Regions from separate parts of the Homo sapiens genome. Here regions 1 and 3 are each linked to region 2. Evidence: fine-mapped expression QTL. A gene starts in region 2. Each other region holds a variant in brackets. All regions are shown on one strand. Distances are between the middles of the regions. Region 1 overlaps PLSCR1 (phospholipid scramblase 1). Region 2 holds the start of PLSCR1 (phospholipid scramblase 1). Region 3 holds the start of PLSCR2 (phospholipid scramblase 2).

Region 1 (10,828 bases), 30 kb before region 2:
CCTGTTTAAGACAGCTTATGATATTTTGTTGTAACAGCCTGTGCCAACTAAGACAAGACTGAAGAGATATGGATGTTAATGACTGATAAGTATACAAAAGGAAGTGAGGAGCATGGTATGTATTTTCTCTAAGAAAATGTTGATCATCTTAGAGAAGATTTACATCAACATGAAGAGACCGATGGTAGAAATACAGAATTAAATGCACTTCAGGTGAAGGTTCAGATGAGTGGAAAAAAACTTGTTATTGGAAACTGGAGGAATGGAGATCTTTTTCATATCATGGCAGGCAGCTCAGCTGAATTGTATCATGCAGTAAATGTAAAGTTACTCACTATTTTATTTTTTGAAATTAATAAGTATCTTATAAGAAGCTACTTTGAGACAATGTAAGTACTGCATATTGCTTTTCCTTAAATGTTCATCAGTAATTTTAGCAGCCACCGATGTTTCCTTGCTGGAATAAAATTATTGTGATGATGACTGTCAAATGGTCATTTCCTACCTTCGTCATTTCTTCTATATTTTTTAGTTGACTTCTAATGAAACAAACAAACAAAAACCCCTTTTCTTTCTTCTTTCCTTTTCATTTAATCCCTTCCTTTCTTCTTTCCTGCTTTCTCCTTTACTTTTTGCAGCAGATAAGTTCTTGAGGGAGCCATGAATCGTATAAAAAAGTGTCATATTATTTTACCTACTGGATTGATGGTGACTATTGTTTTCCTTGTCAGAAAATAATTATTAAAGAAAGTCAATATAGATACTCTCTTAACTGATCTTAATTTACCCAACTCCTTGGGTTGACATTTCCTATTCTCTCTGTAAAACCTAATTATTAGCTCAAATTATGCTGAATACACTTGACTATTACATTAAGAGGGTCCCTATTGACTCTCTAGTTCTAGGGTACGTCTACTCTCTCAAAAGTTCTACACCAACTAAAAGTGATTTGTATTTATTTGTAAATCAGTTTATACAAAAGATTATTGTAGTTACAGAAAGTAAATATTTTTACTTGCTTTGATTAAATATTAATATAAAAGATTGTTTCTATGTAAGTTAATCTGAATTCCTTTAAAATGCTTATTAAGTCTACTCAGTAAAGTTGATTGCTACTGAGTTAGTAAAGGGTGAGCCAAATATGAATGACTGAAAAATCATGGTAAAAATTGACTGGTCTACACTAAGATACCTTTGAAAGTGTCTTAGAATTCTGGCTCTATTGAAACAAAAATAAACTGTGTATTTTTATAGAAGAAAGACAGTGCAGAATAGTAGACCCACACTTGGCCCTTGCCCCTACTTAAAAGATTGATAAATAAATAAATGATATGATAATAATAACAAAATAATAAAATTCACCCTTAATTTATTTTAAATATATTCATCTTTTTTACAGATATGCTTCATCTTTTATTGACTTTTTTACTTACACAACTAATTATTAATACCATCTCCTCAGATAAATGGACTTTGGTTATTTTGATAGCTTTCAGGACCTGAAACGTAAATCGATTCACACTGTAAATTTGAAAGATAGATAATTCAACAATTTTAGGCCATCTACCATGTATCCAGGTTTTGGTGATGAGGGAGATACCAAATCACCATGAGAAAACTTCTGTGTAGACAAAGTAACTTTCTCATCTGAAAAGGCTAGACTAGTTCCTAGAGAACAATCAGGCAAGCCATGCTGCTTGGGAAAAAAAAAAAAAAAAGTGCAGCTTTAGAGAAGTCCACCACCTGATTCCTAGAGACTGAGAGAGAACTATGTGTAGGAAAGGACACTTGATCTTTCCTACCTCCTCCCACCTCAGCCTCTCAAAGTGGTGGGATTACTGGTGTCAACCACCATGTCTGGCCCCAACCTGAACTTCTTAATGTGGCTAAGGCACTGTATGATCTAACCACTCTTTAGATGTCCTACCCCCTGCATGTCTTTCACTCACGAAGGAACACAAAACCAGTGGCCTAGCCACATTTCAGACCCCTGAGGTGACTTCTGTTTATGTTCTTTCCTTTGCCTGAAATAATCTCACTTGCCTTTTGTCCAGCAAACTTTCTTAGTTTAAAAGTTACTTCCCCTAATTTCCTGACCATTAAAACTGAGTTCAGTGTCCCTACTACCCCTCTCCATAGTACTCTGGATCCTATAATCAAACATTCCATATGTATAATTGACCTTAAGCATCTTGTAGAAAATAATTTTTGTTGCTTATTGAGACCATCGTACCTAGCGTAACTACTGGCCCAGTGTAGAAGCTCCGTATGTACTTGTTAAATAATTGATGAGCAGTTTCAGTGCCCTTAAATCAATCAACTTTTTTTTTTTATATTCATTTCCTCCTCAGGTATAACGTTTACAAATACATTTATGTGAATTATTTGAGTGAATCTGTCTTTATTCATAAAAACTGAAATAGATTTGCAAAAAAAATAATTTTGCGAGTAAATTATCTTCTGCTTGTGACTTGCAATAACGGGGAAAGAATTCAGGCAGTATGATTTAACAGAAATGTGCTTAGTAGGAGCCATGGTTTAAAGGTATGTGTGCCCCCAAATTCATTTGTTGGAAACTAAGACCCATTTTGACAGTATTCAGATATGGGGCCTTTAGGATGTGATTAAGTCATGAAGGCACCATTCTCATGAATTGGATTGGTGACCTTTTAAAAGGGCTCGGTTGGGTCCCTGTTGACCTTCTGCCTTCCGCCATGTGAGAATGCAGCAACAGGGTGCCATCTTAGAAACAGAGAGCAGCCCTCACTAGACACCAGAATCTGTTGGTGACTTGATCTTGGACTTCTCAGCTTCGTGAACTATAATTAACAAATTTTAGTCCTTTATAATTACACTGTCCCTGTCTAAGGTGTTTTGGTATAGAAGCCCGAGTGGACCGGGTGGTAGACTAAGATCTAATTAACTCTGTAAAGTCAATATAACCGAGAATTTCTCTAAGATATTTTCAGGTGGTTGCAGTCTATTGGCAATACCTGACTAAAGTTGAAATGTTTCCTAGCAACTAACTCCTTTGCTGAAATAAATAGGCCAATGTTTGTTCCCTATCACTGCCAGACAGAATAACCTCAATGTGTTAATGATGGAAAACCCCCAGAATCCACAGGCAGAAACAAATTGTACTTAGTAGGCAAGCAGATCAATTTTCCAAATCTATTCAGAATTCAATGTGGGTAGATTTATAATCTGCATTTTGGCATAAATCTGATGTTTTCTACCATATAAACATTAACAGTAGGTTAACGTTTAACTTGAATGCTTGGTGTGTGTATGTGTGTGGAGGGTTGTTAAGTGCAGAGCTCTGTGACCAGTTGTACTTGTTCCTTATCATTCCATGGCCCTCTCAGTTTGTAAATCATGAGTTCAGACTCTGTATTGTCAGTTGTTTCATCTGGTTTCAGGGGCCCAGATTATTGTTCCTCTCTCTCTCTCTTTTCTTTTTCTTGAGAAGCAGTTTCACTCTTGTCACCCAGGCTGGAGTGCAATGGTGCAATCTCGGCTCATTGCAACCTCCGCCTCCCAGGTTCAATCAATTCTCCTGCCTCATCCTTCCCAGTAGCTGGGATTACAGATGCCTGCCACCATGCCCAGCTAATTTTTGTATTTTTAATAGAAACAGGGTTTCACCATTTTGGCCAGGCTGGTCTTGAACTCCTGACCTCAGGTGATCCACCTGTCTTGGCCTCCCAAAGTGCTGGGATTACAGGCATGAGTTACTGCGCCCAGCTATTGTTCCTCTCTTAAAATAGCTTGCCACATTTTGACACTATAAAGCTAAGATTAAAAAAGGCTCTAACACAGAAGCCAGAGACTCTGTTCCTCCCTGTGCCTTAATTTCCCTTAATCTACACTTCTGTGAGATGAGCATCATTCCCTAGCTTGGCATCTTGCATGGACTTTTTTTTTTTTTTTTTTTGAGGAGATAGTATTCTTGCTAGGGTTTAAATGGATTTTGCTTGCTATTCAAATCACAATACAGAAATTTACTTTAGGCCAAATATTCTTCACTGGCTTTGAGACACTTCTCTGTGTTCTGAAAACCATTGATCTTTACCAACACATAGCCCTTTTCATTTTTTACACTGGTTCTATTGCAGGAACCTGCTCAGGTCTCTGAACCTGCATTAGAACACTGAATCTTCATACTGACCTTATGAGGTAGATAACATAATCAATTGACAACGATACTATTGACAACTAAGGGAAATTAAGGCACAAGGAGGAACACACAGCTTGAAGGAGACAGTACCAGGTGCAGGAACATGGCCCTAGAAACTCAGGCGGTGTATGCTGGGCTAGAGACAGTAAAGGAGAGAGGCAGGACATGGAGGGAAACCCTGTACACTTTTCTGGCACTTTAAGCTCTAGGAGCACTTCATTGTGCCCAGAGACATTTTAAATCATTCCATTCTTAACTGATGGCAGCGATTCTCTACAGAGGCTTTTCTAGTTACCCTAAAGTTACAGTTGTTGTTTTTGAGCCCAAATGCAATTAAAGCTTCAGTACTTATCCATAGAGTAGCTAGCTAACTTGATGCCGGGAGCCCAGACACTGACTTTCTGGCAATTTAATTGCCTGTGGCTGGTGCTTTTTGTTTTTTCCTCTCCCAGCCTTGTCTCTACTTTCACTTACACTCCCCTCACTCCTCAACCCTCCCCCAAGAGGTACATAGGAGAGGTACTGACATCCCTTAATCTTGTCTTCCTCCCCTCCCTCCCCTCCTTCTTCCTCCCTCCTTCTCCCCCTTCCTCACTGACCACCTACCTAGAACTTCCTTCCCAAGATCAAAAATATACCTCCATGC[C/G]CCATCCATTGCAGCTTTTCCTCCTGAATATTTTCCCTAGTCAGGGACACGCAGTGACTTTCCATTCACTGTTATAACTCACATGGTAGAAATAAAAAAATATGCAACATTTCCTCAAATCTCATTGAGATTACAAATTAAACTTTGAAAAACAATTCCTGGTATTTTCTTAATTAAATATCGAATTTTTCATGTGTGATTATTTTCTGTATGTAATTATGTAATGAGAAGATATTTGTCTAGTATTTAAATAGGTTCTGCAGAAGATATGTGGGGTTTTGCTCAGATCTTCTTTGCAGAGTTGAAGAAAGAAATGTTTAGATCAGTTTAGTTTCATTTTGCTTAACCAAAGATCCAGAATCCTGTTGAGAGAGAGAGAAATAATGAAAGTAAAATTTAGCTGTCACAGAGATAATGTCAGTACTCTAAGCCTTATTTTGGGTTAGTTTTGGCACATTATGGCCAGTTTGGAAATCCTATGCCCACCCTCTTCTGTAACTGGCATAACAATGCCATTGGGATTCAGCTATGCAAGTACCTCCACTTTTCTTGGCATGCCATCTGTACCAAGCACATGCTCTGAGTTCCATGGGTACACCTCATCACTGGAACTTGGCATCTGGTGAATTGTTTAGACTTGTGGGAGATCATCTAGACTTGACTTTTCCTGAAGATCTCCTGCATACTAATGTTCTCACCGCTTGCCATTTGGAGCTATTGAGGTCTAGGGCACTAACACCATGAGGAGAGCTGCTGTTACAAGAATTGTGCTGAATATGAAAGAGGGACTCTTCCACATGCCCTTATTGCTTAAGCATACTTTTCCATTGCATGAAGAATATTGTGGGTTGTTCATGTCATCTTTCAACTCAATCTTCATTACAAAAGAGATTAACTAAATTCTTATAAGCTTCTGACAGGTGGAAATCCTAGTTTCCAACACTGGTACAGATTTTACTACAAAGTGTCATGTACCTTTGCTCATTTTTAAAGGAGATTTGAAAGGAAAAGTCAGTTAAATATGATGGAGACAGGAGGCAGAGAAATTCTAGGTAGAAAAGGGTGAGTCCCCAGTGAAAACCCTACCCTCAAGCTGAAATGCCTGAAACCCCGGCCCAAAGTGAGAATTTATATCCCTGTTTTCCTACTTGAATGTTGCCTTTTCCTAAACTGCCCATGGCCCGCCCTGCCTGCAATCCTGTGCCTATAAAGACCCAAGACTCAGTCAGAGAGGAGTGGAGACTATGGCTGGACATTGGAGAGAAGCAGCTTGACTTCAGAGGGACAGCTTGACAGTGTAACTTCAGAGAAGAATCCAGCTGGACAGGGCCAGACTTCAGGGGAAGATCACCTACCCCACTGTCCCCTTTTCAGCTCCCTTTCTCACTGAGAGCCACTTTCATCAGCAATAAAATCCCCCTCATTTACCATCCTTCAGTTTGTTTTTGTGACCACATTTTTCCTGGACACCGGACAAGAGCCTGGGAGCCATGAGTGCCGATATAAAAGGCTCTCACATTCGCCATTTGCCCTTGCTGGTGGAGGGCAGCTGTCCCACATGACAAGGCAAAGGGCCCACTGAGCTGTTAACACTTAAGCCGTCCACAGACAGCAGAGCTAAAAGAGCACTGTTAACACATCTTCTGGGGCTTCAGGAATCGCAGGCAACCCCACCTGGATGCTACCACAGGGCCTGCACAGTTTGTTCCTGCCCATGCCAAAGCGGCCAGCCAGTTCCAGTGCTTGTACACTCCAGTTCCTGCCTTGTTTGCCTGTGCACTCCCTCCCAGGAGGAGTTGAGAATGGCAGGCTGAGTAAACAAGGCACCCCTGTCTCGAGTCCTGTGAAGGGGTCAGGGAAATATCCTGCTTCAAATGTACCATCATTTAACTGAATGAGTGCTCAAAATACCATCTGAACACATTTCGTTTAAAAACAAAAATCAAATATACAAAAAAATCAAGTTTTTATTTCAAATATTTGAATCTAATAGATCATTATTTAGGTTTATACTCTGTGAATATATATATGATATTGTATTTAATTAATATCTGAGTAATCTCAATTACCATTTTCTAGGAAGGATAGAGTGTAAGAGCTAAACATTTCATGTAGAAATATTAACTTTCAAAAGTTATAATACCAGAGTTTTAGAGTGAAGGAGTATTTAAAATGTGTCTTTCTTTGGGAGAGAATCATTTTGTTCTTTACTAACAATAATTTGAAAATTGGTAATTTAATATCTTGTGAATATGAAAATATTATGGTATAGATTAGCTTCTAGGAGAAGTTAAGTGTAGCATGATTTCTTGAAGATTAAAAAAACATTTAACTTTTTAAAGATAATATGCATATTGAATATTATTTGAACATAATAGTAAAGAAAATTATCTTTGAGCTTTTTTGAATATATGGCATTTGCAAAATAACATTAGCTCTTATGCATGAAATAAATTGTAACTAGATTTAATAGGACAAGATATAATTTATATAAAAATTAATAAGGCCTTAGTTAATATTTGGTAGTAAAATGGACAATGAATCAGAGATCATAATTCAAAGCAGTTTTTCAAAGGAAGTTTCATTAATAAATGCAAAAACTCATATGTCCTTTTTCTCAAATTGACAATGAGTATTAAAAAATGTACAAAAACCTTTATAAATCAGTTATACAGAAGATAAACTATAATTTGAAAAGCAAAAGTATACAACCAGAGCTACAGGCCTTACAGCTTAATTCATACAGGTATGAGTTTAGATAGTCTCAATCAATATACAGACTTCAGATTTCCTGAGGAGACTTTCACTAATCCACTACCACACTCCTGATTTTTGTTCCTGGCTGCCAGTGCTTTCAAAAAACATGAAGTCCTAGATAAAAACAAAAGTATACAAATGAATTTTCAACAACAAAACAGAGATCAATTATCAGATGCAGAAATACTAAGGGATCTAGTGAAACACAGTAACAAATCTGTTAAAAAAATTAAATGTAATAAGTAAATATACAAAAGCTCTATAATTATATAAGTTCTGCCTTTGGCTTTCCATTTTAATAATAAATTCTATAATTCTATTCATTTATTGATACCTGTATGAATTTAATTAATCTTCCAGTCATTTTCTCTAAATGTTACTTTTTCTCTATCCCCATAATTCTCATCTTTGGCTGCATACTGGAATCACCTGGAACACTATATGAACTTCGAAGTTTCTGATTTAGTTGAACTGAGGTATGGACTAGTCCTTGGAGTTTTTAAAGTCCCTAGGTGGTTCTAATGTGAAGGCAATTTCAGAATCACTGGTATATCCAATTATTTCCTGTAATTTGGTAGTTAGGTCTACACACTTGAGTGAATGTACACTCTTATTGTACTTCATACTCCTATATTAGATGGTTTAATTTAATTACTATGAGTCATGGTAAAGTTTCCTTGTTTCACTAAATTTTTTCCACATATGCCTACTTTCAACTTCTTCCTCAAAGCATCTAGGAGATGCCTGATTTAAGGGGAGACTAAAATCTCTCCTTAGTACATCTCCTTAGTCCCCCTCTTGCCATGTGAATATTCATAGACTCTTCAGGTAGAAACTAGTCACCTGTGACCCCAGAGTGTCAGGATCAAATAGAATTTCAGAGCTAGGATTAAATGGGAATCCTGATTTAAAATCTATAAATTTTAAAATGTCATTTTGAAATATACACTTTACTGAATCATTTCAGAATGAACCTAGAGAAAGCATCTATAATCAAGATTAATAAGAACAGACTTACAATGAGGAAACAGGCACCAATCATTACAGCTTTCATTTTAACATCAAGGTCTAAAGGGAACTGGATTCCAAAGTTATCAGCGTCTGTAAATGCCTCTCTCAAAATTCCAGTCCAGTGCTTGGAAATTTTGCCAACCACACACTGTTCATCAAGAGATTTAATCTAAATTGAAAAAAAAAAGTATTAAATACTTTTAGGAAACTTATAGCAAAAGTACTTTCAAATTTGAAGTAAGATGAAACAAATATGGTATTAAAATTATGCACCATATGTAACCCTCATTAGATAACTGGAGGCTCCTGTATCTATTTATAGATATATGAAAAAAACTGTTTCATTGTACGGAGAAATTATATTTCAGAAAGTTTTCCTGAAATATTTAACAATTTCTATTTTATATTAATATAGACATTAATAAATTATTTGAATTGACCCAAAAGAAAATTTAAGCAAAAAAGGATATAAATATGAAATGTTTCTTTGATGACATTTCTAGAAGCCATCAGGAAGTTAATGAACAAAACTCCTATTAGACTTCTGCTTTAGGAGAAGCACAGTTTACACAGACTGAAAGATTAAATATGATGAAAAGGCTTATTACTACCCACTGTGAGTTGCCAAACATGAAATGCTAAGCACCTAGAAAAGATTAGCAGTTTGGAGTAAAGGCAAATACCAATAAGTAACTTGATGAAATGCCCCACGCCAAGGGTTGAGGTTGAGAGTGGATAACTAGTGGGGTGTGAATAAAAGATGAAGAGTGTATGAACAAATGAGCTCCGAAGTAGAAGTTTCCTAATTTTACAATTCTGCCTGAGGAAAGCCCAGGGCCATCATATAGGGTTGAATGGACTTTGCTCAGACTAAGGCAACTCCTCTAGGAGGGCAGGTGGGGACTGAATGTAGCTGAAATTCACAAAACTATGTACACATATAGTTGTATTAACAGAGGAGTGTCCTTTTCAGCTAAATAAATGTGGGGAATCTAAAAATACTTGACTCATTTTATTTGAGTACAAGTGGATAGTTTGTAAAATACTAGAAATAAACATCTAATATGAAGCTGATAGCATAATACTGTTCATCAAATATTCATTTCATTCCCTCTCCTTCTGTAGGGCCAGTATACTTCCTGTTCCTTCATAATTAGGCTTGGCCATGTTACTTGTTTGAACAACGGGTGTTAGCAGATATGACATGAGTAGTGTCCTTAAACTTGGCTAAGTGCTTTGGCCTGGCTTATGATCTTCAGTGACAAGCCACTAGAAAAGCATGACTCAGGTAGCTGCTGCTGCTACAGCCATAGAACAAATCTACCTGGAGCAGATTGAGGTTAACATGCGCCTAAGTCAGTGCTTAAATACATCCACTGAAACACAGTTGACCTACACACCCATAAGCATGAGTATAAACACTTATTGCAAGCTGCTGAGTTTTAGGGATTATGTGTAATGAAATACTACTGTGGTGAAATAAACTAATACAAATCCTTTCTTGTACATGTTAGTATTTTTCTGCTAATAGCTGTCATTGAAGCATTTGAAGCTAGTAATGAAAACTCTTATGTTTTATTTTTTAATTCTGAAATTTAAAAAAATGAAAAATGCAGCTGACAACTTACTAGCCACCGTAAACTCAACACTATACAGATAAAGATATTAACATTTGCCCTTTTTGATTACTACAGCAAGAAATTTAACAAAGTAGAGAATACATTTTTTATGGCAAGGATAAGAAATGCAAATAATGATCTTCAACCAATAAATTAGCAGGACTAGATAATTTTTAGCTAAATTGTAGACATTTTGGAATAGAAAATCACTATAATAAAATGTCAACATTTGGAAATAATAAATTGGTATTGTATAATGTTAAACTTTCAAATCCATGAGTGCAATACTAATTGGTAAAAGCATTCTAAAAAGAAAACCATAGATTCATCTCACAATGCAAATATAAATGCAAAATACTGAAATATAATGACAGCATATAGGATCTAGGTATGTAGCAAAGAAATATAAAAAGTGTATCATGAGTATATTAATAGTTGCTGGTAAGCTATTTTATTTACTTACTAATGATTTATTTATTTACTGTTATTACACCCAATTTTCATGTAAAAAAACTAAAGCAAAGAGAAGTGAAAGAATTTGTTAAAGTCACATAGATAAGTGTTGTGAAGATGGGTTTCAAACCTGGGCATCTGGCTCCAGTGTCTATACTCTTGACC
Region 2 (10,828 bases):
CTAAATTCATACATAAGAGGACATGATTTTTGTCAATCTCACATTTCTACCATCAAAGACTATACTTTAAAATGCCAATTTTTTAAAAATATGCGAAGAGTACTTTAACAGATATATCAGAAAAGATTAATACATACCGAATTAGAAGTAGGTAGTATCCTTTAATTAACACACTGGACTATACATCTCTAAAGTCTTTACCTGCCCCTTGCTTCTTATAGGATACCTCTCTATAACATGCTTAGCTTAAAAAAAAAATTCTATGGCCTTTAACCAATTTTAACAGAAATTTTAAGAAACTAGTGTTTCAATTATTCTCACCGTCCCTACAGGGTCAGAAAAGCACTAAATAATGTCTAAGGGCAAATCCTAAATAAAATGTAAGAGAAGAAACTTAGGCAAGTTTTTATTTTTTATTTTTTTTTATTTTTTGGCAAACAGACTACTCAACTGAAAAAAATTCATAGTTTCTGGATTGCAGATCTATACATCTGAAATAGAAAATATTTTTGTCATCATTTTAAAAATAATTTTTCTTAGCATTTAGTTGTTTTAGGCTTTCAAGTCCCATGCAAGCCAGAAATAAAGGATGTGCTGCAAAGATAGGGAATTCATAAACCCATGCTATGCATCCTGGTAAACAGTGGTCCCCAACCTTTTTGGCACCAGGGACCGGTTTTGTGGAAGACATGGACCAGTGAAGCAGGGGATGGTTTTGGGATGATTCAAGCGCATTACATTTATTGTGCACTTTATTTCTATTATTATTACATTGTAATATATAACAAAAGGATTATACAATTCATTATAAGGTAGAATCAGTGGGAGCCCTGAGCTTGTTTTCCCGCAACTAGACAGTCCCATGTGGGGGTGATGGGAGACAGTGACCGATCATCAGGCATTAGATTCTCATAAGGAGTGCGCAACCTAGATCCCTCACACATGCAGTTCACAATAGGGTTCTTGCTCCTATGAGAATCTAATGCCACTGCTGATCTGACAGGAGGTTGAGCTCAGGTGGTAATGTATGTGAGCGATGGGGAGCAGCTGTCAATACAGATGAAACTTTGCTCACTCTCCAGCTGCTCAGCTCCTGCTGTACAAGCCCAGTTCCTAACAGGCCACAGACTGGTACTGGTTGGTGATCCAGGAGCTGGGGAGCCCAGCTGTTAAGAATAGGTGGAGGATCTTCAGCAGGGAGTGTCATGAGTTTCAAGTCGTTGCCAAATGAATAACAACCATGAATACACATGGTATTTGCCTTTCACAAGGTCAGAGATCATTCTCTCCTTGCACAGAAATACCGGAAAGGAAAAGAAGCAGATTCTAAAACAATGACAATTTGTTCATATTTGCTCTTTTTCTTCCCACTTGGTTACATTATTTTTAATCTTAAAAGATAAGTTAGTGAGGATGAGACTTACTGGCAAAACTACTGCAGTATAAAATCTGGGTCTTTGCTTTACTATAGGTTTTAGAATTTTAGCATTTATATAATATCTCAAGCATTGAAAGTGGTATGTAATAAGCTCTGGTGCAAAATGTTAAGTGTTCCTTGTACCTGTACATGTGCCAAGTAGATAAGGCACTGTGTGCCAGGTCACTAAAGTCATCCACTATGTGGATGCCTACATTCCTGTTTGCTGTTATAATGATCCTTTGGGTTTTCTCAAGCTTAATAAGTCTATTCCCAGAAATACATCACTCAGTTTGGGGAATAACTGGGTGTGCCCTGAATGAATTAATGAGTTAATTAATTTAGCATGATAATTCATAAATAATGGCTTCTACCACACTTATTTCATTTTAAATTTCAGAAATACTCAGAGAAAGGGAAAATCATCTTTATGCTGTACCAAAAAATGTAATAAAGTTATGTTGTATATTGTACCATTGGAATAATAATTACTCCAGTATGAACACAGAACTTCAAATATAATCTGATTTTTTCTAACTCTGTTAACTAAGACTTTGGAGGAAACTGAGGCATCATATATTATTTGCATACAAGTACATCTCTGTTAAAATTTTTCTATCAGAAATCATAAGTTCCCATTGCTTCTCTGGACTATTTGATAACTGTAACCTCTACTACCACGAAGAGGAAGACACAGCACAGGGGATTTCCAGTTCTGGCTTCAAAATTCATATTACAGTGAAACTCTTTTGACCCATCTCTTGAGGTCCTGAAATTTTTATCTTACTGCTTTCAAAAAGTATTACTGTAAAATCTGGAACCCAAAGGGGAAGCATACTTAATTTTGAAAGTTCCTAAAACTAAAATTTGTTTACCCACACCAGATTTGGATTATTTATTTAAATTTACTTGTTAATTGCCTAAGAACAAGCTCCTTCCCTCATTCCCTCAAAACAGAAGATAAAGCATTTCACATTCTCTTCAAGCCCCAAGATAGGGATAAATGTTTTGAATTATGTTAGCAAAATTCTACTGCTCTGAAAACAAGAATTCTAGGTCCCTAACTTCCTCCGAATAACTGAGAATAAGATACTAGACTAGAGGAAAGGTAGGAATTTCAAGTAGGCCAGGGGAACATTACAGAGGTAAGTCACAAATCAAGTAACTTCCATGTCATTTGGGTTATGTTTGTACATAAATTTTGTACCTTTAAAAATGTTTAGTTAACATCTAAGAAGGAAAAATATTCATCTGTTGAACTCCAGTTTTGGTAAAAGTTAAGCTTAGAAAAAATTGATACATTTAAGCAAATGGGTGGGGCAAGCAGGTGGTGAGGCTTTGAGTATACAGCACATCATACTTGTAAGATACGGGATGAAACTGAGGTGACTGTGGCTGATTATAAATGCAAAGTACCTTGTAACAAGGAGCCATTCCATAAAAATCCTCTTGTGTATTTTATGCTGAACAAACAAAACAAATATGCTTAAAACCAGTTTAGGATAGCCTTTTATAGCATTTTATATTAAACCTTGAATAAAAATGTAGATGATACATCAACTAGGACCAAGTGAGATGGTAGTGATCAAGTGTTCTACAAAACTAAAAAGTAAACCAAAGAGACAAAGGAAACAAATACTGAATCAGTTATTCTCATTTGATTGCTTTACTACTCTGAAAAGCCTTTCCTGACAACCCAGAGCTCCCTCACAAATTTGCTTCCTTTCCTCCTAATAAATGGTGAAACTAAACCCATAGAAATAAAAGTGATTTTAATAAATGTGATACAGCTTGCTAACTAGCTGAATTAAGATGATTAATAATTCATATTCTTTGCACCGATGTCTCTAATTCACTGAAAAAAGGAAGACTGACATCCTTCAGTGAAATTTGTTAAAAGACTCTTTTAAGGTTATCTTTCTTATGTAAGACAGAAAAGGCTTGAATTTCAATTTACTCTTGTGCCACTTAGCTTTAACTAGGCCAGGTGCTATGGTTAGAATGTGTGAGCTAAGTTCATGTGTTGGAAACTTAATTTCCAATGCAACAGTGTTGGGAGGTGGAGCCTAATAAAATATGATTAGTTTATAAGCACTCTACCTTCATGAATAGATTAATGTCGTTATCTTGGGAGTGGGTTTGTTATTGCCAGAGTAGGCTTGTAAGGAAATCAAGTTCCACTCTCTCTTGCTGTCTTGCCCTTCCACTTTCCACCATGGGATGATGCAGTAAGAAGACCCTCACAAGATGCTGGTGCCTCCATACAGTCATGCACCACAACAACAGATCACATATATGATGGTGGTCCCATAAGATTATTTTTACTGTACCCTTTCTATGTTTAGATACATAAATACTTGACATTGTATTATACTTGCATACAGTATTCATTACAGTAGTACATGCTATACAGGTTTCTAGCCTAGGAGCAACACCTTATTCCACACAGTCTAGGTCTAGTAGGCTATCTGCCACCTCACTGGTCATTCCTTTTCTTGAATGAGCCAAGTTCCCTCCAGCCCAGGACTTCTACCTGTGAGGTTCCCTCTGTCTATAATGCCCTCCACCAACCCACTCACCCACACGTCTATAGACTAGTTGATTTGAGACTTCCCTCAGCTCTCAATCTGACTCTCCTCAACACCCCCAACCCCACCACCCCAGCCTAAATAGTAGGCTGGCTATAGTATCCAGGATTGTGTAAGTAAATTCTATGACGTTCTCACAACCACAAAATTGCCTCATGATGCATTTCTCAGAATGTATTCCTGTATTTAAGCAACACATGATTATGTTGGACTTCCTAGCCTCCAGAACTGTAAGAAATAAATTTCTGTCCTTTATAAATTACCAAGTCTCAGGTATTCTTTTACAGCAGCAGACAACATATGGAGACATCATTTTTTTCTAATCACTTCTTAAAAGAACATATGGAAAATTGAAGAGTGCAACTATTAAGTTCTGATTAAAAAGTGTTTTGGTTTTTTAATTTAGCACTATTCAGGGCAGTGCAATACAGTGTGTATATACACAGATACACATATATACACATAGAAATTCTTCCTATATAAATATTCACTAAATATAAAGCTTGTGTGGTTTTAAAGGAATTAATTGAAGGCATAGAGCATGCAAGGCACTATACCAGGCACTAGAGCACAATACCTAGACACTAGGGGAGACAGACAATTAAGAATTAAATATATTATTAAAAATACTCTAAGTGCTATAAATAAAATTAATGTTGCTATAAGAAAGGGTTATGGGGCACTAACTTAGATGGTGGTAGGGGGTTTAAGAAAAGTCAGACTAGGAGATGAAGGAAGTCTCAAATCAACTAGTCTATGGAGGTATGGTGGGTGGGGTGTTGGAGGGCATCATAGATAGAGGGAACTCCATAGGTAGAATTCCTGAGCTGGAGGAACGTCCCTCATTCAAGTAAAGGAAGACGAGTGAGGTTACAGAGCAAAAGAGGGAGACATTCTTAGAGATGAAGATGGAGAAGTACATAAGGGTCTGCTCACACACATCTGATGTCTCTCCACCTGTATGTACTCTAAGCTCCTTTACAGATCTAAAGGCAGTTTGATCTATAAACCAGCTATTTTACATGCCACTTTTCTATCCAATTGCATAAATCCACTCTTTCCCTTTATATGTCTTTTTCATTTCCCCGCATTTTCTCATTGTTCAAAGCCCTACTATTGTTGTAAACAGGGTGGCATTAAGACAAAGGTTTGCTCTTAGAAAAAGTTCAAGAAGGGAGCCCCCAAACTGTCTGACACGTTTAAGTGTCACTTGTAGTAACCATGTATCTCAATGTGATAAGCCAGAAAAAACAACGACTGCCTGTTCCTGGAACTGGGAAGTGGCCATGCCAAGACTTCCAGGAATAACAGTGCATGAATGAAACCACCTGGGAACCAGAGAATCAGCTTGGAGAAGCAGGAACTTTGTCAAATATTTAAAATAATAAGAGCTAACTTTCACTGAGTACTTTCTGTAGCGCCAGGCACTGCTCTAAGAATTTTACATTAATACTCTGTAGCTCATTTAATAGTTACACAATTTCAGAGATGAGGCAATGGAAAGAACATATATAAGAAGAAAGTGGCTGACAGTCCACAGACGTGAAGCAGTAGAGGCCGAATTTAAAGTCGGGGAGCCTGACTGGAGCTAATGGTCTTAGGAACCGTGCTAGATACCGCCACTATCTTTCCTAAGCTGGTATTGTAGAGGGCCTAGCATAGATGTGGGCTCCGGCGGACTTCATTGAATACTTACTGATAAATGACAGCTTGCAGGCTGTATTAACCATTCCTTCTAATAGCCCCACTACGCTGGCACATGCTCCTGAGCCCAGACTCTACCCAGGATTCAGGGCCGCTCTCTACCTGTAAAGCAGTGTAGCTAAGGGGAAGCTGAGCCCCGCAAGGCGTTTTCAGGCAGGGCACCCCTTGTCATTCGAATGGTTCTGGGGTGAGCCCGGGTGCCGCTGGGCCGCCTGGGGCCCCTTGCCGTGTACCTGCTCCACTTCCAGGGTCCCTTTCAGAGGCCTCTTGCATTTCTGGCCCCAACCTTCACCCCACATCCTCCACCCCCAGAGCAGCAAACACAACCTGCGGGCCCTCGCGCCGGTTCCCCACAAGTTGCCCTCCACACCTGACCCCGGCCCTGGCCCCAGCGCAGGCTCCGCGCAGTTCCCGCGCCCAAGTCCCCAGGAGGCGGCAGAGAAAGCCGCCCGCGCACCTCTGGCTGCCGCTGTTTCCGCTCCCGAGCGAGACAAGGTCCAGAGAGCCGGGGCCAGGCGATGGCTTCCTCTTCTGCGCCTCTAGACTGCCGGGCACAGCTGCTGCGCAACCTTCTCAGAAGTCAGCCGGAAAAGGGTCTGGGAGTAACCTTTGCGCCAACACCCGCGGCTCCTGGTTTCGTTTCCTGAATCTTACGTACACAACACGGTTTCCTTTTCCCGGTTCCCGCGCTGGCGCTCGGGGACCCACGAGACTACTGGAGGGTGAAGGAGCTGGAGGAGGGACTGCGCCCACCCCCTGGTGTGAGGCCCCTCCCCTACCCCCGACTTGCTTTCTTGCTCATTGGAGAGACTCCAGAGACGTTTGTCCGGTGGTTAAGGAGAGGAACTGGGACTCCGACACTAACTGGAACTGGAAAGTCATCAGCTGGGGAGTGGCCTCCCCCGGGAACTTTCTTTACTCTGGCTTTGACCTCCATCCCTCGGAAGCCCGTGGCTTTTCAAGGCGAGGGAGTAGAGGCAGCTTAAGACTACAAATGAGGAGGGGCCAAAATTGTTTTTCTTTATGGTGCCTTTTCTTTCTTGCTGTCTTGCTCTTTCTTTCCTTCTATTAAATTATGTGATATTACTTTTTAATTTTTAAGCAGTTATTTGAATGTTTTCGAGCTCACTTTATTTTTTTATAAATATTGTTCCTTTTTAAACTAAAATAGTTTTTATTCTGTGTATTTAAGTTATTTGTATGACATATCCATCAACTCCTATAATTACACATTTCCCCCCTTGGGGCAAGAGCAGCTATAATCTACTTATTTAGCATAAATCCTGAATACCACTATCATTAACTATAGCCCTCATGTTGTACATTAGGTCTTCCCATTTGTTCATCCTACGTGTTTGTAACTTTGTATACTTTTACCTAAATTTCCCCATTTCTCCTGACCCCACTCCAACCTGGATGACCCTGGATAAACCAGTGGTCCCCAACCTTTTTGGCACCAGGGACCAGTTTCACGGAAGAGGATTTTTCCATGGACCAGGGCCGGGTGGCAGACGGTTTCAGGATGATTCAAGCACATTACGTGTATTGCGCACTTTACTTCTATTATTATTACATTGTAATATATAATAAAATAATTATACAACTCACCATAATGTGGAATCAGTGGGAGCCCTGACCTTGTTTTCCTGCAATTAGAAGGTCCCATCTGGGAACGGTGGGAGACAGTGACACCAGAAGTGTGTTGCTTATGTCCAGTCTACTCCGTAATCTTGTTTTGGTTGCTGTCACTGCAGAAAATCCTGCTTCACAAAGATAGCATGTTGGAAATGGAAGCAGACTCTTCAGTGCTTTTGTGGCAATCTCAGGATATCCCACCTTGAGTTTAATCCAGAACATGGGATTTGAAGCTGTCTCAAACATACTTTTAAGGCCACCATCATTTGTGATCTCAAGCAATTGATCCTCTTCTAGTACGGACAAAATCGATTCACCTGACTTACTCACAAATGGGTCATGGATACATTCATTCCCAGTTCAGGGTTCTTTTGTGGTTGGGTAGTAATGCTCGAACTCTTTTGAAAGCTAAGATAGGTGATCATGCATCAGCTGAGAGAAAGAAGCTGCTGGCTCAGTCTTCTTCAAAATCTCTGCTAATGTTTGAAACATGTCAAAAATCTCAATGTTCATTCGTTGCCCCCATAATTCCAGTTTGGCTTTCAATGCAACCAATTTATCTGCTTCCTTGAACACAGTTGTCCTTCTCTCCTGAAGCGACAAGTTGAGTTCATAGATCGAGTTGAATACATCACACAAGTAAGCAAGTTTTGCAACCCTTTCTGTGTCACTGAAATGTGCCGCCAATGGTGACTGATTTTCTAAAATAAATCTCTGGAGCAGCTCTCATAATTCAAAAATTTCAGCCAGTGATCTACTTTTAGAAAGCCATCTCATTTCTGTGTATAAGAGAAGACATGCATGCCCAGTGTCCATCTCCTCACAGAGCTGCACAAACAGATGTGAGTTAAGAAAATGTACTTTAATGTGGTTGATTATTTTTGTCACATCCTGCAAAACATTGTTAAGTTCAGGTAACATTTTTCAGCTAGCCAGCATTTTTCTGTGGATGACACAGTGCATAGACTCACATTCTGGTCTCTTTGACCAGAGTAGTGAAACCAGAAAGCCATCCAGTCATGGCAGCCACTCCTTCCATGCATATACCTACACAAAATAACCAATTCAGTTTTCTTGATATGTAATCATTCAAAGACAAATAGTTCTTCAGCTGTGGTTTTGATTGGCAACAAAAATTCACATAATATATCCTTGTGCACATCTTCCTGAAAAATATATCACACACAAAAAAGCATTGTTGCTTTGTTGTCAATATCAGTAGACTCATCAACCTGGATTGCATACCAATTGCTAGAGAGGATTAATGGTGACTCATTAATCCTCTCTAACAATTGTACCTCGATATTCTCTGCTATTTCATCAATTCATCTAGTTATGGTGCTAGCCAGAAGAGGAATATGTGCTATTTTTTGAACTGCAGCCTCTCCTAAAAGTTCCCAACAAATGTCCTTAGCAGCAGGCAGGATCAATTCTTCACCAATAGTAAAGGGCTTCTTAGCTTTAGCAATGCAGTTAGCCACTATGAATGATGCTCTCAGTGCAGACACATTTGATGACATGGTGGCCTTCAATAATTGCTTCTATGTGTTCTTTGTGTTCATGGTTTCATGGTTTCTGTTTTTTTTTTAAACAAAACAAAACAAAAAACTCCAAAGGCTTGTCTTTTAATGCAGAGTGCTTGGTCTCCATGTGGCAAAGTAGTTTTGCAGGTTTCATGGCTTCATTGGGCAGTTGGTCACCACATATTATACAAAGCAGGATTGGAGAATGTGAACCACCTGTTGCAATGAACCTGTAATTTAAGTAGGACTCTTGGCATTTTCCTTTAAGTGCAGCTTTCTTTTTGTTAGCAGTCTTAGAGTCTTCTGTTATCTCACCTTTGGGTTTTTCCCCATTTTCAAAGAAGCTGTCCAGTGATGTTTGTTTTTCACTCACTTTGATGTTTTTAACAAAAACTTTTTTTTAACAAAAACCCTTGTTTTTCACAAGGGTTAGCTTGTGGGCTTAGCAAAACTGTGACTAAGACAAGTGCACAGTGTGGAAAAGAGGTGCAGATGGAAGTGGTAAAATAATGGGTGGGCCATGCACAGACTAAAATAAGTGTTGGATTCTGACTTAAAGCCTGCCACCAGATGCAACTGTACAATTGAAGTACATCAATTTTCCACTATAAAGCCTGCCTCCAGACACAGCTTAATTGTCACTTGTCATTTGCCCCTCACTGATAGGGTTTTGATATGAGTCTGCAATCAATGTATTTATTATGGTCTCTGTGCAGTCAAAACTCTCTGCTAATGTTAATCTGTATTTGCCGCTGCTGCCCGATGCTAGCATCACTGCCTGAGCTCCACCTCAGATAATCAGGCATTAGATTCTCCTAAGAAATATGCACCTAGATCCCTCACATGTGCAGGTCCGTGGCCTGGGGCTTGGGGACCCCTGCTATAAACCACTATTGTATATATTTGACCTTTTCTTAATTTCATATAAGTGAGATTGTGCAAAATTTTTCTTTCTGTGTCTGGCTTATTTCATTTAGCATAATGCCTTCCAGGTCCATCCATGTGATAGCACCTGGCAGAATTTCCTTCTTTTATAAGGCTGAGTAATATTCTATTTTGTGTGTATCTGTGTGTGTGTATACACACAACATGGAATATATGTATCTTTATTTATACAGTTGTCTATTGATGGACACCTAGATTATTTCTATTATCTTGGCTATTCTGAATAATGCTGCAATGAACATGGGAGTGCGGCTATCTTCAGGAGACGGTGATTTCATTTGCTTTTGGTATATACCCAGAAGAGGGATTTCTGGGTCATATGGTAGTTCTACTTTTAATTTCTGTAGGAACCTCCGTACTGTTTTCCATAACGGCTGCACCAGCCTACATTCCCACCTACAGTGTACAAGGATTCTCTTTTCTCTACACCCTTGCCGACACTTGTTATCTCTTGTCTTTTTGATAATACCAATCCTAACAGGTATGACGTAGTATCTCATAGTGATTTTGATTTGCATTTTTCTGATGAATAGTGATGCTGGGCACATTTTCATATACCTGTTGGCTATTTTTATGTCATTTTTGAAGAAGTGTCTATTCAAGTCCATTTCCCATTTTTAAATTGGGTTATATGTTTTCTTGCTATTGAGTTGTATAAGTTCTTTATAAATCTTGGAAACTCAACCCTTTTCTGAGAACATGATTTGCAGATATATATTTTTCCAATCTATAGGTTGCCATTTCATTTCGTTGATTGTTTCCTTTGCCATGCAGAAGTTTTTGGTTTGATGTAGAAATAATATTGTTAAAATGTTCATACTACCCAAAGTAATATATAGATTCAATGCAAATTTGTATGAAACCACAAAAGACCTCAAATAGCCAAAGCAATTCTGAGAAAAAAATTGAAGCTGGAGAAATAACACTTCCTAATTAAAAATTATATTACAAATTTATATAAAACAGAATGGCACTGACATAAAAACAGATATGTAGACCAATGGAACAAAATAGCT
Region 3 (10,828 bases), 69 kb before region 2:
CTAAGGGGAAGCTGAGCCCCGCAAGGCGTTTTCAGGCAGGACACCCCTTGTCATTCGAACGGTTCTGGTGTGAGCCAGGGTACAGCTGGGCCGCCTGGGGCCCCTTGCCGAGTTTCCGTTCCACTTCAGGTGTCGCTTCCCGCGGCCCATTGGGCCCTTGCCCCGCCCTCTGACGCAAACACAATTATGGGGCGGAGCATCGTCCCCACTAGCCAGGCACACCCCAGTCCCATAGGGAGGCGACTGAGAAAGCCGCCCCCTTACCCGTGGCTGCAGCTGCTCCCGCACAGCCCTGAGCGAGCCGAGGTCCTAGCGTGGCTTCCTCCCGTCTGCCCCGTGACTGCCAGGCACACCTGTTGCACAGCCCTCCCGGAAGTCGGCGGAAAAGGGGCCTGGACCAGCCTCAGAGTCTACACCTGCAGCAGCCCCTAGTTTAGGTTTCTGGACCCCAAGGGTACAACAAGGCTTCCCTCCCCTGGTCCCTGCGCGGGCTCAGAGGATCCGGCTTTGCTGCTGGAGCGCGGCCGAGCTGGGGGCGCGACTGCACCCACCCCCCCACGCCGTGTGCGACGCGCAGCTGCCGCCCAGCCCGTCCCGTCTCCCTCTCCCCATCCCCGTCCCCTTTTTTGCTCTTTGGAGAGACTCCGGAAACGTTTCTCCGGTGGTTAAGGGCACAGATGAACTGGGACGTCGACACCAGCTGGAACTGGAAAATCATCAGGCGGGGAGTGGCCTACCCCGGGAACTTCCTTAACTCTGCTCTTGACCTCCATCCCTTAGAAGCCTGTAGCTTTTCAAGGTGAGGGAGCTTAGACTACAAAAGAGGAGCGGTCGAGATTATTTTATCTCTAGCCCTTGCCCTTCTCCCTTTTCTTTCCAACAAAAGGCATTTTTAAGTTAAGAGTGAAAATGATGAGGCGTGTAGAATGTTTAATTTTTCAGGACGCGCCTTTGATTTTTCAGGGTGTGCCTGCAACTGGCACACCCTCATGCAATAAATAAATACATATTGCACTGACGTTTCTACTGATTTTTTAAAAATTTATTTACACGCCTGAAACCCTAGCATTTTGGGAGGCCGAGGCAGGCGGATCACCTGAGACCAGGAGTTCAAGACCAGCCTGGACAACATGGTGAAACCCCGTCTCTACTAAAAATACAAAAATGAGCCAGGTGTGGTGGTGTGCCCCTGTAATCCCATCTACTGGGGAGGCTGAGGCAGGAGAAAAATCGCTTGAACCCGGAAGGCAGAGGTTGCAGTGAGTCGAGATCCAGCCACTACACTCCAGCCTGGGAGAGAGAGCAAGACTCGTCTCAAACAAACAAACAAAAACACATGATCTTCCAAACAATAACACCATATATGGAGAAAAATGAAACCTCACCCTCTCCATTCCCGGTGCTGTTCTCCCGATTACCCTGCTAACCAAGGTTGACACAAACATTTGAAGACACACTAAGAGAGGTGGGGGGAGGGAAGAAAAAAGGGAATGGAAGGGAGGAAGGTGGAGAAAGAAATTGAGAAAATAAGATAGAAAAAGGAAGAAGGAAAATCGAGCTACCTGAGTTTGAATTCTTTCTTTTTTACTTCCTGTGCCTGTGACTTGTGAAAATTACTTGACAATCTCTTTGCCTGTTTTCTAATCGGTAAAATGAGAGTAGTAATGGTATCTACCACAGAGGATTTTTATGATGATTAAGGAAGTTAAAATATATAAAGAATTTAGAATGATGTTTGCCATAGAGTAAGCGCTCAGTAAATGTTATATACATACAAATAAGTATATACACAGCTACACAGTGTTTTTGTTTTTTTGTTTTTTTTTTACATAAAGAGGATTATTTTATACAGCTCTTCTCTGATGTGTTTTTCACCTAACAGTGCATCTTGGAAATCTCTATCCCTCTAATACAGAACTGTGTCATTGATCTAATAATCTAGGTACTGTTTCCAAGTTTTATCAATTATAAATTGTGCTGTAGTCATCATCTTTGCACATATCTTTCTGTATACAATAAAAAAAACATTTTATTCTTTTACCAATAAGTCATGGGATTTCTAATTTTTCCACACCTCTTCGATTCTAGAATACCAATTCTAAATGTTTCCTACTGTGAATGGCAAGCATTATCTTATTTTTTGTTTGTTGATTCTGATTGTTAATGAGATTGAGGACTTTTTCATATGATTACTAATTATTTTACAGTTTTATTCTGTGATTTGTCTGAAATATAATGCTCATTTTGTTATTGTTGTTGGATTGGGATTTTTTTCCCTCTTGCTGATTTGTTAGTGGTCTTTATATATTGTGGGTATGTTAAATAAGATACAATTCTTTTTTTTTTTTTTTTCTGAGACAGAGTTTCACTCTGTTGCCCCGACTGGAGTGCAGTGGCACGATCTCAGCTCACTGCACACTCCACCCTCCGGGTTAAAGAAATTCTCTTGCCTCAGCCTCCCAAGTAGCTGGGATTACAGGCATATGCCACTATGCCCTGCTAATTTTTGTATTTTTAGTAGAGATGGGGTTTCCCCATGTTGGCCAGGCTGGTCTCAAACTCCTCACCTCAGATCCACCCACCTTGGCCTCCCAAAGTGCTGGGATTGCAGGCGTGAGCCACCATGCCCGGCCAAGATACAATTCTTTTGCCTACTGTGTCTCTGGCTTGAAACTTATTTAAGGTTGCTTTCACCACACAGAAATTTTTATTTTCAGTGATTTTTACTTTTATTTTTTCATTTTGACTTCTGGTCTTTGAATCTTATTTTAAACTGCCTCTTGTACCCAGGACATTTTTATGATTTCTTCCTTTACGTCTATTCCTTATTTCCAAGCAGTTGGGAATGTCTAGTTGTCTTTTTATTATTTGTAATTTTATTGTAGTGCAAGCACATGCTGTGTATGGTTACAGTCATTTGAAATTTTTAAGACTTACATTATGACCTTCTGGTTCACAGCCAATTTTTATAAATATTTTGTACGAGAAATAGGTGTATTCTGCAGTTGTGTACAAGTCATGTATTTTCATTCTAATTGGCTGTGTCAGTTAGTTTTGCTGTTGCTTTAGCTAATATTTGGTTTGATTAATCTATCAATTATTCAAAGAGGTATTAAAATTGAGAAAGTATCTATTTACATTTAGACTTCTTTTCATGTAGTTCATTAGGGCAACTAAAAGAAAATACCATAGTCTGGGTAGCTTATAAACAACAGAAAGTTATTTCTCATAGTCCTGGAGGCTGACAAATCCAACACCAAGGTGCCAGGAGATTCAGTGTCTGCAGAAGGGCCTACATTCTAACACATACATGGCATCTTCTCACCGGGTCCTCACAAAGTGGAAGGGACGAGGGATCTCTCTAAGATTGTATTTTTCTTTCTTTCATTTTTTTTTAAAAGGTATTAATCCCATTTATGAGAGTTCCATTCTCGTGACCTAATCTCACAAAGGCCCCACCTCCTAATATGTCACATTGGTGATTAGGCTTCAACATATAAATTTTGAGTGGACACAAACATTCAGACAATAGCAACATCTGTCTTAGCTCCTGTTGCAACAGCAAAATGGCATAGTCTGGGTGACTTAAACAGCAGACATTTATTTCTCACAGTTCTAGAATTTGAGAAGTCCAAGGACAGGGAACCAGTAAAATCATCATCTGTTGAAGCCTCTCTGGCTTGCAGACAGTCCCTTTCTTGCTGTGGCCTCACATGGCAGAGAGAGAAAGAGCTCTGGTTCTTCTTCCTCTCCTTATAAGGACACTGATCCCATCATAGAATTTTTAACCTTTCCTTAATTTGGCATCACCAATCCCTCCTTTTCTCTGGGGTACTGTAGAAATAAATTGGATCTCCTTATTATATCTGTCTAGACACCCTTTGTGACTTCCTGTGTCTTGCAAAATGATTTGCCACATCTGCTTTTTTTCATATTCTCAAATTTGTTGAAATCTTATGCCCTGCTATATAATCTCATCTTTTTTTCATCCTTGGTTTATTACAGCTTTGGGTTTTGTTTGTTTTGACTATCTTCACTTTTATTGTATTATAGTCCTGAAGAAAAGTACTATCTTTTTTTTTTTTTTTTTTTAAGACAGAGTCTTGCTCTGTCGCCCAGGCTGGAGTGCAATGGCACGATCTCAGCTCACTGCAGCAACCTCCACCTCCCAGGATCAAGCAATTCTCCTACCTCAGCCTCCCATAGTTGGGATAACAGGCACCTGCTACCACGCCTAACTAATTTTTGTATTTTTAGTAGAGATGGGGTTTCGCCATGTTGGTCAGGCTGGTCTTGAACCCCTGACATCAGGTGATCCACCCACCTCGACCTCCCAAAATGCTGCGATTACAGGCATGAGCCACTGCGCCTGGCTGAAAAGTACTATCTTAAATTAGAAAACATCTAGGTATAACATAAACACACTGTTGGTTAACTAATCAAAACTCAGTATCTGCTCTTACATGGTAAAATAGTGGTTTTCAAATTTTAGTATCCCTCAGATTCACCTGGAAATCTTGTTAAAACTCAATATGTGTTTCCCACATCCAGAGTTTCTAATTCAATATATTTGGAACGGGGCTTGAGAATTTGCTTTTCTAATAAATTCCCATGTGACGCTCATGATGGTTTTCCAG[G/T]GACTTCACTTTAAGAACCATTGCTAAGTGTTCTATTTTGCTCAGTTCTTGAAGAACAATATGTTCTTGAAAGGAATGTCCTAACCCAAAGAACAAATATTGGTTAATTGTCAGTCATAATGAATCCAGCCTCCTTTCTCTGTTATTGGTATGCATTTGGTTATATTACTTAGATTTGGCTAAAGAAGAGTCATATTGAGAACTTCTAGGAAAGAGTTTCCTGCTTACTTTTGTATATGTATATTAATATGTATCTGTGATGTGCATAAGTACATGTACACACACAGCCCATATATACACTTATGTGAAGACTGACTTGTGGTTATAGAATCTATGAGGGTATTTATTTTTGTTCTTTCCACAATTTCTTACTCAAAACATGCTATCTTTTTTTATTGTTGTCCTCTTCTGCATGGAGGGTTTTATTTCTTTTCAATAGCTCCAAGATTTCCACGGCACCAAGGGGGAAAAGGTATAACACAGCTTTATGGGAAACAGTAGCAGAAGACGATTTCACTTTGCATCATGGTTCTAACATGTGGGTTAAAATTCTGGGTTGGAAATTCTTTTTTTTAAGAATGTTGAATATTGGCTCCCACTCTCTTCTGGCTTGTAGAGTTTCTGCTGAGAGGTCTGTTTTTATCTGATGGGCTTCCCGTTGCAGGAGACCATGCTGTTCTCTCTGGTTGCCCTTAGTAGTTTTTCCTTCGTTTCAGCCTGGGAGAATCTGATGATTATATGTCTTGGGGTTGATCTTCTCGTGGAGTATCTTAATGGTGTTCTCTGTATTTCCTTAATTTTCATGTTGGCTTGTTTTGCTAAGTTGGGGAAATTCTCCTGGATGATGATATCATGAAGTGTGTTTTCCAACTTCTTTTCATTCTCCCTGTCTCCTCCTCGTACTCCAATCAATCTTAGATTCAGTCTTTTTATAAAGTCCCATATTTCTTGGAGGCTTTGTTCATTCCTTTTCACTCATTTTTTCTCTATTCTCGTCTGCATGTCTTATTTCAGTAAGGTGCATTTCAAACTCTGATATCCTTTCTTCTGCTTGGTAGATTTGACTATTGATACTTGTGTATGCTTCATGAAGTTCTTGTGCTGTGTTTTTCAGCTCCATCAGGTGGTTTTTGTTCCTCCCTAAACTGGTTATTCTAGTTAGCAATTCCTCTAATCTTTTATCAAGGTTCTTAGCTTCTTTGCATTGGGTTAGAACATGCTCCTTTAGCTCAGTGTAGTTTTCTATTACTCATCTTCTGAAGCCTACTCCTGTCAATTCATCCATCTGATCCTTTGTCCAGTTCTGTGCCCTTGACGGAGAGATGTTGCAATCATTTGGGGGGAGAAGAGGCACTCTGGCCTTTTGGGTTTTCAGCATTTTTTCACTGATTCTTTCTCATCTTCATGAGTTTGCCTAGTTTCAGTCTTTGAGGCTGCTGACCCTTGCATGGGGTTTTTGTAGGGGCCATTTTGTGGGGGCCATTTTTGCGGGGGTCATTTTTGTTGTTGTCAGGTTCCTTTTCTGTAGGGCTGCTGCAGTTTTCTGGGGGTTCACTTCAGGCCCTATTCATCTTACATTCCTACTTCTTTACATGCTTCATAACTTGTTGAAAACCATATATTTAGAATAATATAATATGACAACTCTGGAAACTGTATATGCCTCCTCCCCAGGCTTTGTTGCTGGTGGTGTTTTTCCTATTGTGCATTTGGTTACTTTCCTCAACTAATTATATTAATCTATTTTCTTCATTATGTGTGACCACTGACATCTATTCAGTTAGCATAGTAGTCATTCAATAAATGGATATAGTTTTCCTTAAATATGCTGCATAAGTGTATCTCCCAGCCTTTTCCAAAAGGTCCTTTTTGTGTTTGGGGACACTATTTCAAAGATCCAATAGATGATTTACGGTATTGGCTTAGCTTTCTCTCACTGCTTGCACAGAAACTTAAGGTCAGCCAGACGAGAGAGATTATTTCTTTTTCAGGTCTTTTCTGGGTATGTGCACAGTTCTGTACGTGCACATTTCCTTCTAAATTTTCAGGAGTATGTCAGAACTTTTAAAAGCCCCTATTAATATCTCATTCCCCAGATTTTCTTTTTAAGAGATTTTGGTCAGCTTCTTCTATGCCCCAACTATTATTAAGGCCTCACTCAATTGTCATGTTAAACAATTACCACTAATTATTTCCCAAAACTGTTATATAGCGGGGGCGCCGGGGGGTGCACTGGGCCAAGAAGGCTGACAAGAAGCAGCTGCAATCAAAGGCTCCCACCAAGAAGAACGAAGACAGTGTGTGAATCCTGCACTGGGAACCGAGGTACCCTCAGGTTCTATCAGGACTGACTAGGCAGTTGGTGTGACTCACAGAGAGTAAGGAAATGCAGTGTGGTGCATCGCCTCACCTGAGAGCCACATGGGGCAGGGGGAGCTCCCATTCCCCAGCCAAGGGAGGCGCTGAGTGTTCATGCTACCCAGCCTGGGGATCTGTGCTTTTTCCATGGATCTGTGCAACCCATGGATCATGAGATCCCACTTGTGAGCCCATGCTACCAGGGCCTTGGGTCCCAACCGCAGAGCTGCATAGATTCTCAACAGCTACTCAGTTGGCATCTGCCTAGGACTACTGAGCTCCCAGGGGGAGGGGAAGCCTTCATCACTGCAGCTGCCTGCTGCCTAAGACAACTGAGCTCCCCAGGAAAAGGACAGCAGCCCTCACTGCAGCTGCTAGCTGCCTAAGATGCTGAACTACTGGGAGGAAAGGGCAGTAGCCATCACTACAGCTCCAGCCCACTGTATTTCCCCGGCTGGTGCCTGGGAGACTCAAAAGGCACTCCCCATAGTACAGCACACCAGCTGTGGCAGATCACGACCAGACTGCCTCTTTAGGGCAGACCCTGATGCATCCCTCCTTACTGGGTGGGGCCTCCCTGCAAAAACTTCAGCCACTCCAGCAAGGGGCTTAGGGCCAAAATTCTGGTCTCCCTGGGCCTGAGCCCCTAGGGGGAAGGATAGTCATGGTCTCCATGGACCAGCTGACTTAGTCTTTCCCCCTGGTAGCTCTGAGGAATCCAGGCAGCCCAGATGAGTGGGATTCCCCTAAGAACAGCACACCTGTTGGACCAAGGGACAGCCAGGGTACTTTGTTAAGTGGGTCTCGGATCTCATGCCTCCCAGCTGGGTGAGAACCCCCGCAAACAGAGGTCACCAGACACCTTATACCAGAGTGTTGCTGGAGTTCTGTTCCAAGATGGCCAAATAGGAACAGCTCTGGTCTGCAGCTCTCAGCGTGATCGATGCAGAAGATGGGGGATTTCTGCATTTTCAACTGAGGGACCTGGTTCATCTCATTGGGACTGGTTGGACAATGGGTGCAGCCCACGGAGGGTGACCCAAAGCAGGGCAGAGCGTTACCTCACCTGGGAAGTGCAAAGGGTGGGGGGATTTCCCTTTCCTAGCCAAGGGAAGCCGTGAGAGACTGCACCTGGAAAAAGGGACACCGTGGCCCAAATACTGCACTTTTCCTATGGTCTTAGCAACCAGCAGACTAGGAAATTCTCTCCCGTGCCTGGCTCGGCACGTCCCACACCCATGGAGCCTTGCTCACTGCTAGTGCAGCAGTCTGAGATTGACCTGCGAGGCAGCAGCCTGGCTAAGGGAGTGGTGTCAGCCATTGCTGAGGCTTGACTAGGTAAACAAAGTGGCCAGGAAGCTTGAACTGGACAGAGCCCACCACAGCTCAGCAAGGCCTACAGCCTCTATAGATTTCACCTTTGTGGGCAGGGCATAGCTGAACAAAAGACAGCAGAAACTTCTGCAGACTTAAACACCCTGTCTGACAGCTCTGAAGAGAGCAGTGGTTCTCCCAGCACAGCATTTGAGCTCTGAGAATGAGCAGACTGCCTCTTCAAGTGAGTCTCTGACCCTCGTGTAGCCTAACTGGGAGACACCTCCCAGTAGGGGCTGACACACACCTGATACAGGCAGGTGCCCCTCTGGGATGAAGCTTCCAGAGGAAGGATCAGGCAGCAATATTTGCTGTTCTGCAATATTTACTGTTCTGCAGCCTCCACTGGTAATACCCAGGCAAACAGCGTCTGGAGTGGACCTCCAGCAAACTCCAACAGACCTGCAGCTGAGGGACCTGACTGTTAGAAGGAAAACTAACAAACTGAAAGGAATAGCATCAACATCAACAAAAAGGACATCTACACCAAAACCCCATCTGTAGGTCACCAACATCAAAGACCAACGCAAAGATAGGGAGAAACCAAAGCAGAAAATTCTAAAAACCAGAGCACCCCTTCTCCTCCAAAGGATCGCAACTGCTCACCAGCAATGGAACAAAGCTGGATGGAGAATTACTTTGACGAGATGACAGAAATAGGCTTCAGAAGGTCAGTAATAACAAACTTCTCTGAGCTAAAGGAGCATGTTCTAACCCATTGCAAGGAAGCTAATAAAAACCTTGATAAAATGTTAGATGAATGGCTAACTAGAAAAAACAGTGTAGAGAAAACCCTAAATGAACTGATGGAGGTAAAAACCATGGCATGAGAACTTCAAGATGCATGCACAAGCTTCAGTAGCTGATTCGATCAAGTGGAAGAAAGGGTATTGGTGATTGAAGATCAAATTAATGAAATAAAATGTGAATACAATTTTAGAGAAAAAAGAGTAAAAAGAAACTAAAAAAAGCCTCCAAGAAATATGGAGCTATGTGAAAAGACTAAATCTACATCTGATTGGTGTACCTGAAAGTGACGAGGAGAATTGAACCAAGTTAGAAAACACTCTTCAGGATATTATCCAGGAGAACTTCCCCAACCTAGCAAGGCAGGCCAATGTTCAAATTCAGGAAACATAGAGAACACCACAAAGATACTCCTCGAGAGGAGCAACCCCAAGACACATAATTGTCAGATTCACCAAGGTTGAAATGAAGGAAAAAATGTTAAGGGCAGCCAGAGACAAAGGTCGGGTTACCCACAAAGGGAAGCCCATCAGACTAACAGCGGATCTCTCGGCAGAAACTCTACAAGCCAGAAGAGAGTGGGGGCCGATATTCAACATTCTTAAAGTAAAGAATTTTCAACCCAGAATTTCATATCCAGCCAAACTAAGCTTCATAAGTAAAGGAGAAATAAAATCGTTTACAGACAAATAAATCTTGAGAGATTTTGTCACCACCAGGCCTACCTTACAAGAGCTCCTGAAGGAAGCACTAAACATGGAAAGGAAAACCGGTACCAGCCACTGCAAAACATGCCAAATTATAAAGACCATTGATGCTAGGAAGAAACTGCATCAATTAACGGGCAAAATAACCAGCTAACATTATCACGACAGGATCAAATTCACACATAACAATATTAACCTTAAATGTAGATGGACTAAATGCCCCAATTAAAAGACACAGACTGGCAAATTGGATAAAGAGTCAAGACCCATCAGTGTGCTGTGTCAGGAGACCCATCTCACGTGCAGAGACACACATAGGCTCAAAATAAAGGGATGCAGGAAGATCTACCAAGCAAATGAAAAGCAAAACAAAGCAGGGGTTGGAATCCTACTCTCTGGTAAAACAGAATTTAAACCAACAAAGATCAAAAGAGACAAAGAAGGCCATTACATAATGGTAAAGGGATCAATTCAACAAGAAGAGCTAACTATCCTAAATATATATGCACCCAGTACAGGAGCATTCATAAAGCAAGTCCTTAGAGACCTACAAAGAGACTTAGACTCCCACACAATAATAATGGGAGACTTCAACACTCCACTATCAATATTAGACAGATCAATGAGACAGAATGTTAGCAAGGATATCCAGGACTTGAACTCAGCTCTGCACCAAGCAGATCTAATAGACATCTACAGAACTCTCCACCCCAAATCAGTAGAATATACATTCTTCTCAGCACCACATTGCACTTATTCTAAAATTGACCACATAATTGGAAGTAAAGCACTCCTCTGCAAATGTAAAAGAAGAGAAATAACAACCAACTGTCTCTCAGACCACAGTACAATCAAATTAGAACTTAGGATTAAGAAACTCACTCAAAACCACACAACTACATGGAAACTGGACAACCTGCTCCTGAATGACTACTGGGTAAATAACAAAATGAAGGCAAAAATAAAGATGTTCTTTGAAACCAATGAGAACAAAGACAAAGTGTA

The links. PIP is the estimated chance that this variant, and not a neighbour inherited with it, causes the effect.
Region 1: its variant is fine-mapped to the expression of PLSCR1 in whole blood (TOPMed, PIP above 0.99).
Region 3: its variant is fine-mapped to the expression of PLSCR1 in fibroblasts (GTEx, PIP above 0.99).

The regions. Positions count from the first base shown.
Region 1 is chr3:146,508,408-146,519,235 of GRCh38, forward strand. PLSCR1 (phospholipid scramblase 1) reads right to left here. Exons shown (of 9, transcript NM_021105.3): 8 at 8,599-8,760; 9 at 6,773-7,694. The coding sequence ends at 7,638. Among named protein-coding and RNA genes, the nearest start is that of PLSCR1, 31 kb to the right of the region's middle. RefSeq lists an enhancer at 5,745-6,246. The variant C/G (reference allele first, on the strand shown) is at 4,824.
Region 2 is chr3:146,538,301-146,549,128 of GRCh38, forward strand. PLSCR1 (phospholipid scramblase 1) reads right to left here and starts at 6,307. Exons shown (of 9, transcript NM_021105.3): 1 at 6,167-6,307. RefSeq lists an enhancer at 6,157-6,636.
Region 3 is chr3:146,469,231-146,480,058 of GRCh38, forward strand. PLSCR2 (phospholipid scramblase 2) reads right to left here and starts at 331. Exons shown (of 8, transcript NM_001395437.1): 1 at 265-331. RefSeq lists an enhancer at 320-389. The variant G/T (reference allele first, on the strand shown) is at 4,638.